Regions from separate parts of the Homo sapiens genome. Here regions 1 and 3 are each linked to region 2. Evidence: fine-mapped expression QTL. A gene starts in region 2. Each other region holds a variant in brackets. All regions are shown on one strand. Distances are between the middles of the regions.

The links. PIP is the estimated chance that this variant, and not a neighbour inherited with it, causes the effect. A credible set is the group of variants that fine-mapping cannot tell apart.
Region 1: its variant is the best candidate, but not a certain one, in a credible set for the expression of DNAH8 in testis (GTEx, PIP 0.77).
Region 3: its variant is the best candidate, but not a certain one, in a credible set for the expression of DNAH8 in sun-exposed skin (GTEx, PIP 0.59).

What each region holds. Positions count from the first base shown.
Region 1 is chr6:38,999,531-39,002,030 of GRCh38, forward strand. All of the region lies in intron 88 of DNAH8 (dynein axonemal heavy chain 8), which reads left to right. Among named protein-coding and RNA genes, the nearest start is that of DNAH8-AS1, 48 kb to the left of the region's middle. The variant C/T (reference allele first, on the strand shown) is at 1,255.
Region 2 is chr6:38,714,345-38,716,990 of GRCh38, forward strand. DNAH8 (dynein axonemal heavy chain 8) reads left to right here and starts at 967. Exons shown (of 93, transcript NM_001206927.2): 1 at 967-1,071. It overlaps DNAH8-DT (DNAH8 divergent transcript), which reads right to left and starts at 871. Exons shown (of 2, transcript NR_186581.1): 1 at 722-871. RefSeq lists a silencer at 954-1,003.
Region 3 is chr6:38,811,573-38,814,072 of GRCh38, forward strand. It overlaps DNAH8 (dynein axonemal heavy chain 8), which reads left to right. Exons shown (of 93, transcript NM_001206927.2): 25 at 2,482-2,500. Among named protein-coding and RNA genes, the nearest start is that of DNAH8, 98 kb to the left of the region's middle. The variant G/A (reference allele first, on the strand shown) is at 1,401.

The DNA.
Region 1 (2,500 bases), 290 kb after region 2:
AGTTTTACTTCACTCTCAAATTATATCTTTCTGATTCTCCTGTGTTTTGAGGACTATTTATATATGGCACAAAAGGCATTTGCAACCCATTCCTGAATTTTGAAGTAGGGCATGATCACAGTTTTTAAAAGTCATATAAAGTATAAGAAAAATACAAGTAACTCTGAGAGGGGGAATCCTGTGAAAATATCCTATGAAAACAAATGAACTTATCAATTGTCAAAGACTCAAGAAGAGATAGATAGAAAGATAGATATTTCTAATATCTATAGATGTATTTATTATTATATTGTATTGTCATATTATATAATAGATATATAATAATTAGAAATGAATGTTCCTAATTCATTATTAGAAATGAATACAAAAGTTGTAATAAGGCATTTATACACACACACACACAAACACACACACACACATTCATTGAAAGGTGCCAGGAAATAAAAAAACAATAATAACAATATACTATGTTTTTACCATAAGAAGGAATAAGTAAATTTTCATGTCCTTTAAATATTGAAGAATTGCTGTCCTTTGTATTTGAGGTTTAATAAAATGCAAGCCAATTGGCCTCAATTCAACAAACAAACATTTGTTGAGAACTTACTGTCTGGCTAACCTGGGGATACAAAGATGAGTAAGATGCAGTCCGTGCTCTTGGAGCGCATCATCTGTTGGGGAAGATGATGAATGGCAAATGCTGATGAGGTACAATATGGTAAACTCTAAAATCAGGGTATGTATACATTGCTATGATAACACAGGTGGAGGAGCAATCAATTCCAATTTAGGGATCAAAGAAAGCTAGTGAGACAGGCTCCATTTAAGTTGTGCCTTAAAGCAGGGGTCCACTACCCCTGGGCCACAAGCCAATACCAGTCCGTGGCCTGTTAAAACTGGGCCACACAGCAGGAGGTGAGCAGCAGGTGAGGGAGCACTACCGCCTGAGCTCTGCTTCCCGTCAGATCAGTGGCGGCATTAGATTCTCATAGGAGCGAGAACCCTACCGTGAACTGCGCATGCCAGGGACCTAGGTTACACACTCCTTATGAGAATTTAATGCCTGATGATCTGTCACTGTCTTCCATCACCCCCAGATGGGACCGTCTAGTTTCAGGAAAACAAGCTCAGGGCTCCCACAGATTTTACATGATGGTGAGTTGTATAATTACTTCATTATATATTACAATGTAATAATAGTGGAAATAAAGTGCCCAATAAAAGTAATGTGTTTGAATCATCCCGAAACTTTTC[C/T]GCCGCCTCCCCTCCAGTCTATGGAAAAATGTCTTCCACAAAACCAGTCCCTGGTGCCAAAAAGGTTGGGAACCGCTGTCTTAAAGGATGTGCAGGAGTTTCTCAGATTGGAGATGAGGTGGGAAGGAAGTGACTGCAGGACTGGGGTCAAGGACAGAGTACAAAGAAGAGGAACATAATGAGCGGTAAGGACCAAGAACTTAGACTGGGATGCACACACCAAGGAACAATCCAAGGAAGGGAATGCAAACATGAATGTGTGTGGGGAGTTCTGGGAACCAGGTCCAGTATGCCTAAAGCATGAGGGAGGGGGGTGCTTAAAGAGCGGAGTGGCCGATGCAGAGTGTGGCTTTTGAAGGTTTTGCCAAAAGAGTTTGGGGCAATATTTTAAATTGGAATACGGTTATTTAATCATTTATTTAAATCTACTTAACCTACTCTACCTTCTACATGGCCATTTCTGCTTGCATGAGTTGATGGGAATTAGCATTTTGCATACAGAGATTTAAGCCTTTTCCTGCCATCACATAATTCAGGCTGAAGTTGGAATGAAGATAAACAAGCATGTCATCATGTACAGAATGACAAGTACAACAATAAAAGCAAGCACTGAGAGCTATGCGCACACATAGGGAGAAAGTCTAGGGAAGGCTGTCTAGAGGTGAAGACATCTAAGCTGAGCTTAATATTAATAGCTAGTTAGGAATGAGCTATAATCGATGAAAAAATGAGGGCAGAGCATTCCAGGCTGTGGAGGTAACTTGGGAACAGTCAAAGAAATATGAGGGGAGTCATGGAATGCTTGATGAGCTTCAGGTAACTCACAGCACAGGGTAGAGTGTGGGAAGAAGAAAGAAGGAAGCAAGAGCAGAAGCTGGAGATAGAAAAAGGCTTAGTGATGAAAAAGGTTTGTATGCCATGTGAAAGACTTCAGATTTTATCCTGAAGGTTATGGGGAGTCTTCGAATACATTTAATAATCACTTTTCAAATGTCAAAACTTACCTTGGAACAGTGGTTGGAGGCAGGAGGATGTGTTAGGAGGTGATGGCAGTGCCGCACACAGAGGATGATCAGGAAGTTAGGGGGCAGAACTGAAGGCAGTGGGGATGACGGTGGGTCACGGGGAGGGGATGCTGGAAATGATTTGGAACTAGAGCTTGGAAACTAAGAAGGTCTGGGGAGCCACAGCAAGGAGGAAGCCATCTCTGAGGGTTCTCAGTTGGGCAACTGGGCAGACATTGATG
Region 2 (2,646 bases):
GCTTGCCAGCAGAATGTCAGAGAATTCTTTGGCAGCTACATTTCACAAATCCCCTAACTCAGTGACTAAGTGCAGCCCCTGGAAGAATGCCCCTGAAGATGATAACATCTCTTGCATGAATCTTTTCTTGCAAAAGTTCCAGGATCCTAACTCATGCCTCTTCCTGTACATAATAAGATAATAGCTGATAGGATTAATGATTATGCCTCTACAATCTATAACCAGATGTACCCTTGAACCCCACCCTTGATGAGATTTTGCTCTAATGTAACTGCTGAGCTCATTTGATGTAACTGCTGAGCACATCTGATGCCACTTCCCATCACATGCCACCACCTGTACCTAAGCTTTGGAGCAGTCTCACAGAAAGTCTCTGAAAGACTCTCCGGATTGCAATCCTTAGTAAGACATCTGAATAAAACTAATATTAATTATTTAAATGACTGATTTTTTTTTCTTTGGTTAACACACCCAACTAAAAACGGACCGCTCACATCATGTCAGGCAGTCACAGCAAAAGCAGAACCGTACTAGAGAGGGGAGGGGGTGGACTTGGGAGAGAAGTCAGTTTTCCCCCAGAATCTTTCTCTCTCATCAGTCACAGGTTTCTGAACACACTGACTCACCAGGAAACACTTTTTAGGTTCTCAAGGAAAACACTAAGTAACTTCAGAAACTGTAAAGGTCATAGAAAACATTATTTTATATATTTCCGTATTACCACGTATACGCGGGAATCCTCCCAAGCCCCTGGCACCGCACTCCAAATGTCCATCTCCAGGAACCCGCCCTTCAGTGCCTGGGGTCCCCTAAACAATGTTTCAGTCCTCGGGCTCGGTGGGTGCATCCTTTATTGGGGAGCGCGGGGGCTGCCCGTGCCCCTCCAGTCGCTCCCCGTAGGGAGCTGCGCACTGCGGAGCCCTCGCCCCCGAGCGAGCCTGTCTCGGACTCCCAACCGTCAGCCTCGTTCCGGGCCGCGGAGGCCGGAGCAGCTCCCCCGGGGCAGCGCAACCGCTGGGGCCGGCCTCAGTGGGCTGAGTGGTCGGGGCATCGGGGCCCAGAGAGCGGCTGGTGAGTACTTGGTCGGAGCGCGCTGTGAGCGCCCGGCCCCTGTCCGGGAGGCCCTGATGCAGCCGGGTTCCCCGCCCACTTTCCTTCTTTTTAGGGGACTGGAATCCACGCTACAGTTCAGTCCTCCACCTCTGTTAGTTGAACCCAGGGAACCCCTGCTTCAAAACCCCAGCTGAGTCACTACCCTTTGTCAGTCTCTACACTGGACATCTAAGTGACTTCACACCCACTCCCCGTTTTGAGACTAGAAAACCAAATACCGCACGTTCTCACCTATGAGTAGGAGCTAAGCTATTGCTACGCAAAGGCATCCAGAGGGGTATAGTGGACTTCGGAGACTCAGAAGGGGAAGGGTGGGAGGGGGGTGAGGGATGAAACAACTACATATCGCTTGCAATGTATGCTACCTGGATGACCCTGAAGTCTCAGACTTCACCACTATCCAATGCATCCATGTAAAAAAACCACCTGTACCCGAAAAGCTATTAAAATAAATAAATAAATAAATAAATATATATATATATATATATATATATATATATATATTTTTTTTTTTTTTTTGAGACGGAGTCTCACTCTGCCGCCCAGGCTGGAGTGCAGTGGTGCGATCTCGGCTCACTGCAATTTCTGCCTCCCTGGTTCAAGCCATTCTCCTGCCTCAGCCTCCCGAGTAGCTGGGGCTACAGGCACCCGCCATCACGCCCGGCTAATTTTTTTTGGTATTTTCAGTGGAGACGGGGTTTCACAGTGTTAGCCAAGATGGTCTCGATCTCCTGACCTTGTGATCCGCCCACCTCGGCCTCCCAAAGTGCTGGGATTACAGGCATGAGCCACCACGCCCGGCCATATACCTATATATTTTTAAAAATTCAAAAATAAAACAAAAAAAATGCCTCTCCCTCCGGCTTATTTCCCGTTCCTCTACCCTTCTCATTCCCCTCTAGCCCAAAAGTCTCATCACTGAATTTACCACTTTTCCCAAGATAGTTGTGCCTCTTTTTGCTTCTCTGCTTTTGTACGCCACTGTTCCCACCTTCTGCCTATAATGTTTCTCTCTCCCATCCTCTCCTGACAACTCTTCTTTAGACCCGACTCGGGTGGTACCTTCTCCGTCAAGTTTTCTTTCTTTCTTTTTTTGTTTTTCAGAAGTTTTGCTGCCTGCTAAGCTCTCTTAGCCCTTCGTTAATTCACCTGTCATTGACATTGACCATCTTGTGTTGTATTCAATAGTCTGTCACACCAATTTGATTGTGCATTTTGCTTTGGAGAAGTCCTTAGTCTTTTATGTAGCCACAGTGGCCAGACATGCAGAAGACGTTCAATATTGCTGAATGAACTAATGCATTTGGGATAGGGTTACAGAAATGGGTGCAAGAGAAAAGGGTGTGGTTGAATTGGCTGTACCCAGCACACAGGTATGCAACTTGCTCACTTACTGTAGTATTCCTAGGAGGGGAGGAGTTCAACACCTGGAAATGCTCCTGAAAATAACCAGGATGCATTTCTTGTTGACTTTGCAGAAGTTCACTGAATCCTTAAAATTTAACTTAAGAAGGGATGGTGGGAATTGAAAAT
Region 3 (2,500 bases), 97 kb after region 2:
TTAGCAAATTTTTTATTTTTTTGGAAGAGTCTTCATATATCACTGAACATTTTCCCTTACTTTAGAGCTTGTTATCTGGACATTAATTTTTATCTAGAGTGAGTTTCTGTTTCGTTTTTGGATTTCGTTAGCTCTCTTTCTTACCCTTAGACATATTCACGCATACTTGGGTTTTAATGTGCAGGCTCTCTTTGAGCGAGAGCTTTGTTTTTGTGTTTCTTTTTCCTTCTCTCTCTCCCTATCTATGAGTTTCACTTTTGCCTCTAAATGACACTTGGAACCCTGAGTACAGAACCAGGTCTTATTTCTTCACAGTTACTGGCCCCTGGAGAGATACTGGGGGTATGGCAGGTTTGGCTAGGGAGCACACGGGTAGCCTAACTTAGTTACTTATCAGGGAATTTGTGGATGTGCTTCTTTTGCCCCAGGTCTGCATCTCCTGGAAAAGCCATAGCTGCAGGAAGTAAGTTGACGCATTTTGTCTTGCAGCATCATCTGCAAGACAGATGGGAGAGCATCATCTTAGTTTTTGGCCTTAAGTAGTGAGGCTGGCCGAGGCCCCATCCCTCATTGAGTCCTGTCCATCCTCTATATTCCACCAGAGCCAACCTCCCCACGGTCACTGCCTCTTTCCAGCCCGGAACCCTGGCTAGGCTGTCCTTGAGTTTCTCTCCATTTCTACTTCATGGAGATGCTTACCTTGTATTTGAGCATTCTCATGTCCTTTATCTCCCATCCATGATTGTGATGAGTTTGGCAAAAAGAAGCTTTTTTGAAGTATGAACTCACTATGCTACATTGATTTACAAGTTCTGCGGCAATTTAGCAATTTTTGAGGAGGCATACATGAGGATAGTACTAAAAACCCTTACTTGTCTAAAATGTCTTTCTCTTATGCCCACACACGAACGCTAGCTTGGTCTTCTGGGATCAGAATCCCTTTCTGTCACGCTCTACAGAGGCTGCTCCATTGGCTTCTTTGGTTTCAGTTTTTAGAGGAGAGTTCTGCTGCGAATCCGATTTTCCTTTCCAACTAACAACTTGTATTTGTTTTGATGCTGACAGGATTTCTCTTTTATTCTTGAAATTCACAAATTGTATGTTTAGATGCAGGTGGATTTCCCCCCATTAATCCTGTCAGGCACCTAGAGAATCTCTTGAAGATGAAAAAAAAAAGCCTATTCTTAAGGTTAAAGGAGTGCTTTGCTTTAATTTCCCATATCTACACAGTATTCACGTGCCGTATCTAGGTAGTAAGCATCTCTGAGCGGAGTGACTCTCTGGAAATTACTTAGCCTCTCCCTACCTTGGTTTCCTTATCTACAATATGGAAAGAATAATAATCGTAGGGTCTGCCTCACAGAATTAATGTGAACATGAACTGGTAATCTATGGAAAGT[G/A]GCTGGCATACATTAAAACATTCAATAAATGTTACTTATTCTTACCTTTTCTCTAAGTATTTTCTCTCTCTTTGTATTTTGCACCTGAAATTTTGGAGAATACCTTCAGCTGATTCTCTAATTTGCTATATAAGGTACCAAATGATCTAGTGCACTGTTCACTGCCTTTATTATTCAACTGTTCCTTTATACTTTATGAAAACTCTTTCTTATTCTCAAATTACACACTTTGAATCAATGCCCACACTAATTTTATTGCAACATCTTGAATTTCACTGGGACACTATGAATTGAGGGGTTTTGTTTGCTTGCTTTCTTTTTGTTCAGTCCTTTCCAATAATACGTTTATCTGGGAACCATTGGCCCTGAGTGCTAAAAGTTGGGTCTTCACTTTTGAACTGTGGCCTCTATGTTTCTTGTGATCCCCTCCCACCCCCCATCTGCTTGTATTTAGAAATGGAGGTGTAAGTTTTCAGTAATGACGGTATTTCTTGCACTCCCAGAGAAAAAGAGAATGGACAGTTTACATTTATTATAATTTTGCCTGGGATAGGGGTGGAGGTTAAGACAGAGGGAGCTATGCTAGCCAGACTAATTTGCAGCTCTGCATGTGTCCTTCATAACTGGACTCAGGCGTCTGTGCTGCTGTCTGTGCATGAGTGATATTGTTTAACAACGCGGTTTTTGGAAAGCATGGACCAGAAACTTCCTGTTTAATCTTGTGAAAATATAGATAAAGAAGCATATAAAAGTATATGCTGGTGATCTCATCTTGTATCTGTTGCAGGGCTGGGAACAAAGAATGCCTTTAGTAAACATTGTTAAAGGTTATTACTGAGAAAGAACAACATTAAAATAGTAGAAAATGTATATGAGATTACTATTTTACTTCTAAGACTATTGGGTCATTGTATTTTCTTAGTTCTCTGCAATTTAGGGTTCTGTTATAAGTAATATTCTCTTTGTGTAATTTGGCCTTTTAAAAATGATCTTTATTGTTCGGACTGAATTTTGTAGCATAATAAACTAACAATGAAATTTTAGGGTAAGGTTCATCAGCTAAATGTCCATCTCATTGCAGCCTTTATGGGCGAAAGCAG